Regions from separate parts of the Homo sapiens genome. Here region 2 is linked to region 1. A link means that fine-mapping ties the variant in region 1 to the expression of a gene that starts in the linked region. Tissue or cell type: whole blood. Region 1 holds a variant in brackets; the other region holds the start of a gene. All regions are shown on one strand. Distances are between the middles of the regions. Region 1 overlaps EPHA4 (EPH receptor A4). Region 2 holds the start of EPHA4 (EPH receptor A4).

Region 1 (5,374 bases):
CCTAGACTGTATAATTAGTAAGTGGTGAAGCCTGAATGCCAACCATAGTCTACAGTCTTAATTACGATGGTCTAAGTCAGATTTTTCAAATGCATTGTTCTGAAGGGTGAAGAATCTTTAGAAGATAATAATTTTTTAACCTCTAAGTATGCTCAGTTGGAATTTAAGATTTTTTGTTTTAATTAAATGACAACAAATAATTAATTCATTTAGGCACACCATATATATAGCAAAAGTTATTGAAAGAGACAACCAGATTGCAGGGTTGTATACGGCAACTACTTTATTATTTTCAAATGCAAACTCTTTGCATTTAGTTTGCTATTTTACAATTTTACAAACTAGGTATAAAAGACCATAAATAAATGACATAAGTTATGTGTACCTAAAGTTCATGAAGGGAAGAAAAATACCTTGACAAATTAAAACAAAATAGAAAATCTATGTCTAACTCCAGAAATCACTCAAAGTTTGGAACGTGTGAACCGAACAATGTTCTGTTAATTTCTTATTCAGTATGAACTAAATTATAATATGCCTTATACATTCTAATTTGAACCACAGTCCTTGCATATTCCAACATACTTAGAGTGATACAAAAAATAAACGCACTCTTCAGTGTGTATCAATGCTTGATGTTGTTTGGAGAATGTTAAATAAGTGAAAATATTGCTTCTAGAACTTTCCTTTATGGGTCAGAATTTAAGTGTCTTCAGACAAATATTGAGGCTATACGGGTGTACGGATTAATACACATATCCTTCACAGATTGAATACAAGAGGTCTCAGAATGCACACACCAGCAGTGTAGCGAGCACAACCTTTCTTTAAAATAAGAACGTTTTTCAACCCACCAGAACATTTCACTCGTAAGATTGCTAAAAAATAACTTGGGGCCTGCATACACAAGGTGAAGCTACTTGATTTGGTGCAGCGGGGTAGTTTCCCACTGCTCTAGAGATCGGCACATGAGTTAGCATTGGAGCTCACTCGGCCAGGGCTTGCCCACGGGCTCAGACCCAGACCCTGAAGTTGGCCTCCTACCCTTACCTCTGGAAAAGATGAACTGCTCAGAAGAGTCAACCTCATTTCTTTATACATATTTTTCAGGCATCAATGCATAGGCACATCCCTTAAAAAATATATTAAGGTCCCCAAAAAGGGGTGAATCAACTTTGTCACTCTGGCATAGAACACAATGCCACACACCCTGTCAGAATGTAATAAATATTTATTGATGATTTTCTCTACTTATTCAACAATAAATGGTTCAGAATCTATTTTTTTTCCTCATTTTTCCCTGATTTGATGTTATAGCTTATATAAATGGCCACGGTTTCTGCAACCACAGCTTAGGATAAGCAAGGCAGCCACTCAGATTATGAAAAATGGCAGTAAGTTGGCTGGAGTTTGGTATACATATCATATCAATACTGAATCTTCACACTCCGGAGCTCCGATTCTAGAAGGCTGATGCTCTTGTGAGGGCAACAGGAGTTAGCTGCATATTAATTACTGTAGAACTTTCCAGGTAATTAGGGAATGTGAAATTGCCTGAGGCCATTTCATCCCAACTACCTTAACCTCAAGAGTCACTGGCATGTATTTTTCTGTGATATTGGGAGACAAAGTATTAATCCAGGACACACCATCTCAAAGCTGACACACATATCTACGTTCATCTCCAAAAGTATATGAATTGCATATATTCGTTCGCATTCAACAAGTCCATTTATGCAGGAAAACAAAGGCTACTTGTACTCCATTTGGGGTTACCAGACACATTCCATCTCCTTCTCTCTCTCCATCAAGGAACTGATGATTCAGATGAGTTCAATCAGAAAATTTGTAATTTTGATGATGGGTTGTCACCTGAATGGATTTATATTTTAAATTACTTCACCATTAAGGTGAAAATGCCTCTGTCCAAAGCTGTAGAATTCTTATTAAGGTTAGTGTGACAGCTACAAAATACACGTGTAGATACAGGATGCGTGTAGATACAGGATGCTGAACATCTCTGGGTTGTCTTTCCAAGGGGATGGTCTCCAGGTCCACTGTATCATGTAGTTCTTCATCTTGAAACTGGTGGAAAACCAGAACTCTCCAGGTGTAGCATTCCACAACATTCATGGGTAGTCCTAAGCATGAGGCTACGCACATACACACACCCGCACACAGACAGGCACGCATACAGACACACTCACACCTATGTACACACATCAAAAGAGATAGTCAGCTCATATTTAGTCTAAGAAAAAAATATATTTATATCACTGCAATGGCACACCCTGGGTAAAATGTTACTTCCGCAATGCATATCATAGGCAGCTCATGGAACTGGCTTTGTTTTGTGTGGTTGCACCTGACCTGGTGTCCATAGTAAGACCTGTAGCATTTGGTCACTTGCTGCCACACCAATGCAGCAGTGACACACAGGAATGAAATATGGAAATACATATAAATAAAACCGCAAAGAGTCTGGGGCAAGGGCTCTGCAGAGCTGGTGCTGCGAGACAGTGCATTCCTCAGTGCAACTGGAGAACAGATGCTGAATCTTAAGTGTTTGCTGTTTCTTTCACTGCGAAAGGGGATTTGAAAGTCACACATTTATTCTTTTCAGGTATGGGTGTTGTTTCATCAGTGTCTTTGCCCCAGAACTGGTGTAATTGAAGCAGAAGAAACACATTTAGACGGAACTGAGGAGGGTGTGTTCTGTTTTCTTCCACGGGCTTTGTAATCAACAGGAAGGGCTGTGAGGCCAAGATAGCAGAATCT[A/G]CTCCCTGTAGATAAAAGAGCAAGACTTTAGACAAAACGTCGACCCATATTGCGAGCCAACTGTCAACCACTATTGTAAGAAAGAATATATAGGTTCGTAGAAGTTGGTATCCTTCAGTAAAAGTAGTTCAGTGGTGAGATCACGAATTATACTTTCCTTTTCTGAAAAATAGCAATTATAAGAGCAAAAAAAACCTGTTTACTAACAGCTTAATTACAACTCCGAGATAGGTACTATTCTTATCTCCATTATATGGATGAGGAAATTGAGCATAAGGAGACTAAGTACCCTGCCCAATGCCATACCCTCTGGAGTGGCAAGGCTGGGATTAGACCCCACAAAGTTCTAATTGATATTTATGCTTTAACCACCGTGTTGAACAGCCTGTCTATGAAATGAAAATCCTGACTTGTTTCAGTTCACAATCCACCCATAGTCAACAATAATGATTGAAAAATGCAAACTAAGGGCCGGGCGCGGTGGCTCACGCCTGTAATCCCAGCGTTTTGGGAGCCGAGGTGGGCGGATCACGAGGTCAGGAGATTGAGACCATCCTGGCTAACGTGGTGAAACCCCGTCTCTACTAAAAATACAAAAAATTAGCCAGGCGTGGTGGCGGGCGCCTGTAGTCCCGGCTACTCGGGAGGCTGAGGCAGGAGGAGAATGGCGTGAACCTGGGAGGCGGAGCTTGCAGTGAGCCGAGACAGCGCCACTGCTCTCCAGCCTGGGTGACAGAGCGAGACTCTGTCTCAAAAAAAAAAGAAAAGAAAAAAAAGAAAAATGCAAACTAAGAAGTGAAAAAAAGTGGTGGTTTTTCTTAACAAGAGAGTAACTCCTGATAAATAGAAGTATCTAATCTAACATGGCGAAAGAGCCATACTCTCTACATGTAAACAGGCAGGAGAGAGGGAACATGGGACACAGGGAGATACTTGCTCTATGAACGACAGAGGTCTTCTAGGTTCAAGCCTCCTTCCACATATCAAGAACTAATCAGCCGCAGGCTGGAATTCTAGACATCAGCCTGGAATCGAACAAGGCTGGCACACAGCAATGGACTCCTCATGGCTCCTCATTGTCCATATATTTGTCACATAATCAACTCAAACCAAAGGAAGTAAGTTCCCTTCTTTCATTTATAACAACCAACTATCCAGATTACTTATTGGACTATGCCTCCCACCACGGTGACCATGTTTAGCAGCTGGTGGCCTCAAGCAAAGGGCAGTAATTAAGACCAAAATGCACTTTTATAGATTATTTTGCCTATTTTATCAAATCACTTGTCTGTTTTGCATATGTGTACATTTATCGTGTAGAGAATAAAATTTAATTTTTTGTAGTAAACGACCATATTTAAAATTGTAGAAAACACTTTAGTCTATTTAAAGAGAGAGAAATCGTTTTCTGGCCAGGTCTTGTAGCTCATACCTGTAATTCCAGCACTTTGGGAGCCCAAGGAGGGAAGACTGCTTGAGCCCAAGAGTTTGAGACCAGCCTGGGCAAAAGAGCAAGACCCCATCTTTAAAAAAAAAAAAAAAAATTAGCCAGGCATGGTTGTGCACACCTGTGGTCCCTGGGTCGACATGAACATGAATGTTATGTTGACAATTACGTAAAAATGACAGAAAAGTCATCAAATCTACCTTCTAACTATTTCCTCTCTGGAAATCGGTCAAATCCATCAAATGTAGTTTTTGAAACCTGAATGTGAAGGGATTTCATCAGGTGGGCAGGTATTTATGTGAAGTATGAGGAGAACATGAATATGATCTTAAAACGCTAGAGTGTATTCCACGTCCTGCGGACACACAAGGTTGGTAATGGTTTCTTTTGCTACTAGAAATTCTTAAAGGAGAAAGAATGGTCTCATAAACACGTGTTGCCTTTCAGTCTGCCAATTCCTTCTCCACTTAACATCTGGATATCAATAGATATTACATAAATATATTTGTAATATTAAGTGGGCAATTTGGGGACTTGGTGTGTATGCAGAAATGATTGGACATTTGAATTGAGATGTAAGGGAATGTGAAGACTTGTATCTACTTAATGCCAGGATACGAGTTGAGTGAAATAAGCCTTCTCCTCACCATTGAATTCAGGCAACTCCTTTATCATGGGAAATTTCTTAAACAGAGACCAGACAAAGCATGTGGTCTATGTAGGGTCATGAGTTAAGGAGAATTCATTGTGACTAAATAAACAAAGGCTTGTTCCTTTGAGTCAGTCGTGATGACATCAAAATGTCTTTACCATCCAGTTCTTTTCATTGCAATAGAATTTTACTTTTGTATCACTGTCTTCCCCATTACAAAACAATAATTTTATAAATGTCAAGGCTAAATAATGCATGTTTATCCTGCCAGCATAACTTGAAAGGTCTACCACCATTGTATAAATATGTATTTACCTCCAAACTCTCATAAATCCATTTAAGTGAAGAAGCTTCACTGTGTGACCCCCCTACCACTGAACTTCATTTCACCCCACTCTGGCATGTTGTAATAAAACAATTGGGGTTACAAGTGAAAGACAGATGAATAATACTTGGACAATGTTGGAGGAAGAAGCGTACCTTTCTTCTGTGGAGCT
Region 2 (5,356 bases), 150 kb after region 1:
TATCCGCTGCTTTTTTAAATATCAAAGTTTCAGAAAGAGGGAATGCCAGACGTGCAGAATCAGAATGCAAACGTACCGAAAGTATTCTCTCTTTCTCAAGATGTGTTGGGGGACAATCAGAGACTCGTCTTCCACCCGTAGGAAATCACTGGCTTGAATTTTAGGTATGGAGTGCTGCCTAACGGCTTTAGTGTGCTTGTGCTACACCTGAGTGCGTCAAAGCTTGGGGGGAAGGGAGGACAGCCCACCGAGCTGCGGTACCCCGCTCAGGCTAGAAGAGCGCTAGGTAAGGGGAACATCCAAAGGGACGCAATGAATTCAAAACCTCTCTTTCCCACCGAGATCTGCAGTCCTGGGGGTCGAAAGGCCCACCTCAAAGGAACCACTGGGTTATTAATTTGATCAGCCAGGCTGGCTCTTCAGGCTGGGGGAGGGGTGGGAATGGGAAGCCGCCATCCGTGCTCATGCGCACCCCAACACTCAAGCTTACCCCCAGACCCCTGGATTCTGCCCACTTTCCCTCTCATTTCACCTCAAAGTCAATGGAGTTAAAAATCAGTCTCTTTCCCCTACTTTTCCCGGGGAGTCTGAATTCCTGGGGTCTGTTAATGATTTTAAAATGTAGAGCCTTCCCTGGGTCGCTCCCGCCTGGAGTTCCCGCCCCCTTCCCTCCTCTCCTCTCCCCACCGCCAACCCCCACCGCAACCATTCTCTTCTCTCTGTCCCTAGAGAAAAGCCCGCTACATCCATTTGGATTTATGTAAGGTGGATTAGGGACACAAAGGAAACAATAAGACCCAATTTACAAAAAAAGGAGGGAGTAGAAAGGGAGGGTAAAAGAGAGAAAAGGAAACGTGATGGGAATAGAAAGCAACAAAGTGAATTAATTTTTAAGGGGGAGGTGGGGGAGGGGAGGGGAACAGACCTCCCTCCCTCCCCTTCAACATTAGCCTAGGGCTCTCAGAGCCTTTTTGTCTTGGGCTCCCAAGTTTTTCTCCCCCCCCCCCAAAAAAAGAGGGGGTTTAAAAAAAAGAAAGAAAACAGTCTCTACATCTGGGGCGAGAGAGGTCTCAGGGGACGTCCTAACAAGTGTGTGAAGTGGCCAGGAGAACGCGGGATCCACGATTCCTCTCAGGGGAATGAATAACCCTAGGGACCGAGGGGCGGCGACGGCCGAGATGGCACCAGAACCACCAGAAGCCACGTCGGAAGGAGATGGGAGATCCAGAGGGCGAGAGAGGGCCCCTTTCCTCCCAAGCGATGTCTGTGGGCAGGTGTATAAATCTCTCAGAGCCTCCGTCTGGAGGGCTCCGGGTACCGGCTGCCCAGCCAAGGCTAAGTTGGTTTTTGGCTCCCTCCTTCGGAACAGAGAAAACGATAGATTACACAGGGATGGATGGACGGATGTCTGGAGAGATGGAAAGATGAATGGATGGATGGATGGGTGGATGGATGGATAGATGAATGGGTGGATGGATGGAGGGATGGATGGACGGACGGACGGACAGATATATGGATGGATGCATTATGGATGGATGCATGGACGGACGGACGGATGCACGGAGAGATGGATGGATGCATGGATGGATAGATAGACGGATGGACGGACGGATAGATAGATGGATGCCGGAAAGGAGAAGAATGAGAGACGGATGTGAGACTAGATGCACGCAGGCCAGAGCACCAGCATACGCTGGAACAGAGCACGAGCATACACTCGAACACACGCGCACACACTCAGGACATCTGCGCACAGACATACAATCCTCCGCGTCCGCTTCCACGCAGGCATTCGCGCACCTACATACACGCAGTTGCACGCGCGCGCACACACACAGGCACACACACGCAGACATGCACACACACGCAGACATGCACACACACCACACATGCAGACATGCACACACACGCAGACATGCACACACACACCACACATACACACACACACACACACAGTTCGCCTCTCCCTGGGTTTCTCAGAAACTAAATGATCACCGCCCCCCCGCCCCGCCCCACCTCCCGACACAGACACACAGGCACATACAATCCTCCCAGCACGTCCGAACGGATGCACAGAAAACTGAGCACCCAGACGGGTCCCGTCGACCCCGCACGTTAGCTCTAAACTGTGTGCAATTCTGGGGCGAAAAGCTAAAACTCGACTGCGTTCAACTTGCCGGCGGGTTCCCCAAGTCTGCGGGGCGAAGAGCTCGGGCCCCTCAGGCCCGCAATCGCACCCTCGGGGCGCTGGGCTTGGCGAGGAGAAAGGTGTCTGACTCCGGGTGCTAGAAATCAGGTCACTGGCGCCTGACGAGCGGCGCCACGACCGCTGCGCTGCGGAGCAGGCCCCGCAGCCCGGTCCCGAGAAGCGCAGGGCTCGGGAAACTTTGCAGAAACCAGAGCTCGAAAGGCTTTCGCTAGAATCCGGGAGCACCAAGCCTTCACTGTGCTCCAGGCTGCGTTTTCCCCTCGCCCCGGGCTGGCTCAGGAGAGGACGTGGTTCTTGTAATTTTTTTTTTAAATCCCGGCGTTGTCTCCCGTGCATCCCCTCAGGGCGCCTCGAGCGGGCCTCTCTGGCGGATGCTGATAAACTTTGGCCTTTGGTTACAAACTTGGACAGACCCGCCGCGTGCACGGGTCACCGCCTCGGGGCAGGCTGTCCGGCGGTTCCCCGCTGCCCCTTCGCCGATCCCCTCGCCTCAGCCCCCTTCTCCCGAATCGGGACGCACCATTCACACTGGGCTCCCCCCGCACCACCTGGCCCTGCGCTCCTGAGGACCCCTCACCCGCGATGGCCCCTCGCTGTCCCCGACCACAGAAAGGCCGTCCCGCTCTTACCTTCATTCGCGGGGTATACCCTGGAACCTGTGACAGCGTCGCAAATCCCGAAGAGACACGAAAATAGGGCGAAATAGAAAATCCCAGCCATGGTTCGCCGGTGCCAACGCTGCTCCTGCCGCTTCTATCCCAGTGGAATAAATGCTTAAGTTAGGAGAGCAGCGGGCTGAAGACATTGCCAAGGGGGCGGGCCCGGCCGGTGACGTGAGCCCGCCAGTCCGGGGCCCGCGGCCAATGGCGGCGCAGACAGGGCGGCCGAGCCCCGCCTTCACCGAGCAGGGCCCGCCCCAGGGTTCCGCCCCCTCCGGGCTCCACGGGGCGCGCGGTCTCCCGGGGCTCTAGGGGGCGAGCACGGCCGGTCCCCGCCCCCGCCTGCCGGAGGGAGCCAGCGGGATCCCCCACGTTACCTCGAAGGTCGAGCCCCTGGACGGCGGAGGGACTTTGGAAAAGCTCGGAATTGACCGAGGGGAGCCAGAGAAGAGGTTGGAAACCTTTTCTCCCACCACGGGCGGTTTAAGATGGAGGAAAACGCTCTTTTATTGAAATAAAAGAAGTCTAAGCTGACCTGCGGTTGCTTCTTTAGGAGAGTCGACGTGTCTGCGTCCAGCGCGCCCGGGCTGAGCTGCAGACTCGCGCCTGCCACCGCCACCCTCTGCCACCTTGCCCTGTTTTGTCTTTATGGCGCTTCCCCCTCTGAAATACTCTTTGCGGGGAGTTTTGTGGCTCTATCACTCGCTTCTTCCCTGGCTCCCCAGATGCCTGGAGAGCGGGGACCTACTTGGTCCCCAACGTCCAGTCCGCAGCAGGGCTCCGTCACTGTCTCCAGAGACTGAACGAATGACTTTCTAGCAGTAAGGAAGTCCCCGCTGGCCCCGTCCCCCTGCACACGCCGTGGACCTCGCCCAGGGCCCAGGACGCCCCGAGATGGCCTTGGGCAGGGAACCAGTTGTGGATTTCCCGGGGGCAGGGTTGGGGGCAGTCCCTGGAACCGGGCCTAGCCCGTCTGGGAGCGGTGGGGTAGAAGTGAAAGGCTTAAGTGTGGGTGCGGGGACTTGCAGCCGCACAGACAAGGCAGACCGGGACTGGGAAGCTGCCCGGAGCGGCTGCTGCGACTCTCCGCTCCGACCTAGCCGGGGCAGCCCTCCCTGCCCCGGGAGAAGACGGCGAGCAGGAGGACCCGCAGAGCCCCGCCCGGCTGCTCCGGCCCCGGGGGCACTGGCACCATCGGGCTGTGGTCTTTTCCCGATGCCCGAGCCGTGGACGCGGCCACCTAAGAGCGGTCCGGCGAAGGCAGCGCAGCCGGTGTCCCAGGGACCGGTCCCCAACGCCACTCGGTGCATTTCCCCAGGCGCTGGCAGGGGCACTGATTCCTAGCAATGAGGCCTCCCTTCCCCTTCCCAGGCCGCCCCTCCTCTGACTCCCTCCAGAGCAGGGCCGAGTTTTCCTGGGGAGCCTGGGTCCCGGCGGCCGGGCGGCCGCTGGGAGGTGGAGGAGCCTCTCCAGCCCCGGCCGCAGCTCATCGTGAGCCAACCGCGCCACCTGCCGGCCAGATGCGGGAGTGTGCGGCCCCGGAGGAAGGGCGAGCGGACAAAGACCGCAACCCGCAATCCGCAACCCCGCAGAGAGGTGGTGCGTGCGTTTGGGCGAGCTTTTCAGCCACCGCCAAGTCTCGTGCACTAGGGCTACTCCTACCGTGGGGCTGCGGACAGCGCTCAAGAGGTCCTGGAGTCTGTCGTGACTCTCGCCTGCTGGATTTCAAAAGATGGAATCGGAAAGCGTTTCAAGGAGAAACTCCTAACAAACCTTCCGGGGGTTGCCTGAGTGGCTGCTCTCGGAAAAGCGGATCCTAAATAAAGCGGGAGGGTTATAGGGCGACGTCGAGGAGAGGACAGGTCTCGAGTCACTGCTACAGTTTCAGGTCACTGGGCTCCGCAGCAGATCGTGTTTTCTCCCGTGGCTCGAGAGCTGCGCTGGTTTCTCATGCAAACTCAGAGCCGAGCTAATGACATGAGCAACTTTTACTTTTACACAAGATGAGCACGCGTGCCGAGGCGCTGGGCGGCGGCTGTGTGAGTTGGTGGCCCAGACGAACAGCTTGTGCGAGACTCTGGGCATTTCGGTTTCTAGATACAAGATTTGCTTAAATGTCACAGTCCAAAGAAGTGGATTTCAGTCATTGTAGCTACTGATTGCACACAAGTAAAAAGGGAAAAAATATGTACTCGGGGGATATATGTATGTGTGTGTGCGTGCATAAATTATTTAAAATAACTGCACTAAATCCCTTTAAGAAATGCATTTCTGGGTTCTTTCATGTGTCTTTCTGAGTTTTACAGAAAAAGAAGACGAATATTGGTCCCTGTCATTTGGCACACAGATTCAAAAGAGAAAAGAGCAATCCGAATTCTTTTTGAAACCTTTTTAAACAATAGATGCTGGCTGCCTCTCTGCAGGATCTTGAGTGTTGCATGTATCTATCTGTGTTTGAAACGGGAAACTGACTGCCTGCATTGTTATA

Evidence for each region. PIP is the estimated chance that this variant, and not a neighbour inherited with it, causes the effect.
Region 2: it holds the start of EPHA4, and the variant in region 1 is fine-mapped to the expression of EPHA4 in whole blood (TOPMed, PIP above 0.99).

Annotation. Positions count from the first base shown.
Region 1 is chr2:221,417,770-221,423,143 of GRCh38, forward strand. It overlaps EPHA4 (EPH receptor A4), which reads right to left. Exons shown (of 18, transcript NM_004438.5): 18 at 258-2,783. Among named protein-coding and RNA genes, the nearest start is that of EPHA4, 150 kb to the right of the region's middle. The variant A/G (reference allele first, on the strand shown) is at 2,779.
Region 2 is chr2:221,569,320-221,574,675 of GRCh38, forward strand. It overlaps EPHA4 (EPH receptor A4), which reads right to left and starts at 2,985. Exons shown (of 18, transcript NM_004438.5): 1 at 2,839-2,985. The coding sequence starts at 2,929. RefSeq lists silencers at 2,941-3,360, 3,961-4,240, 4,291-4,450.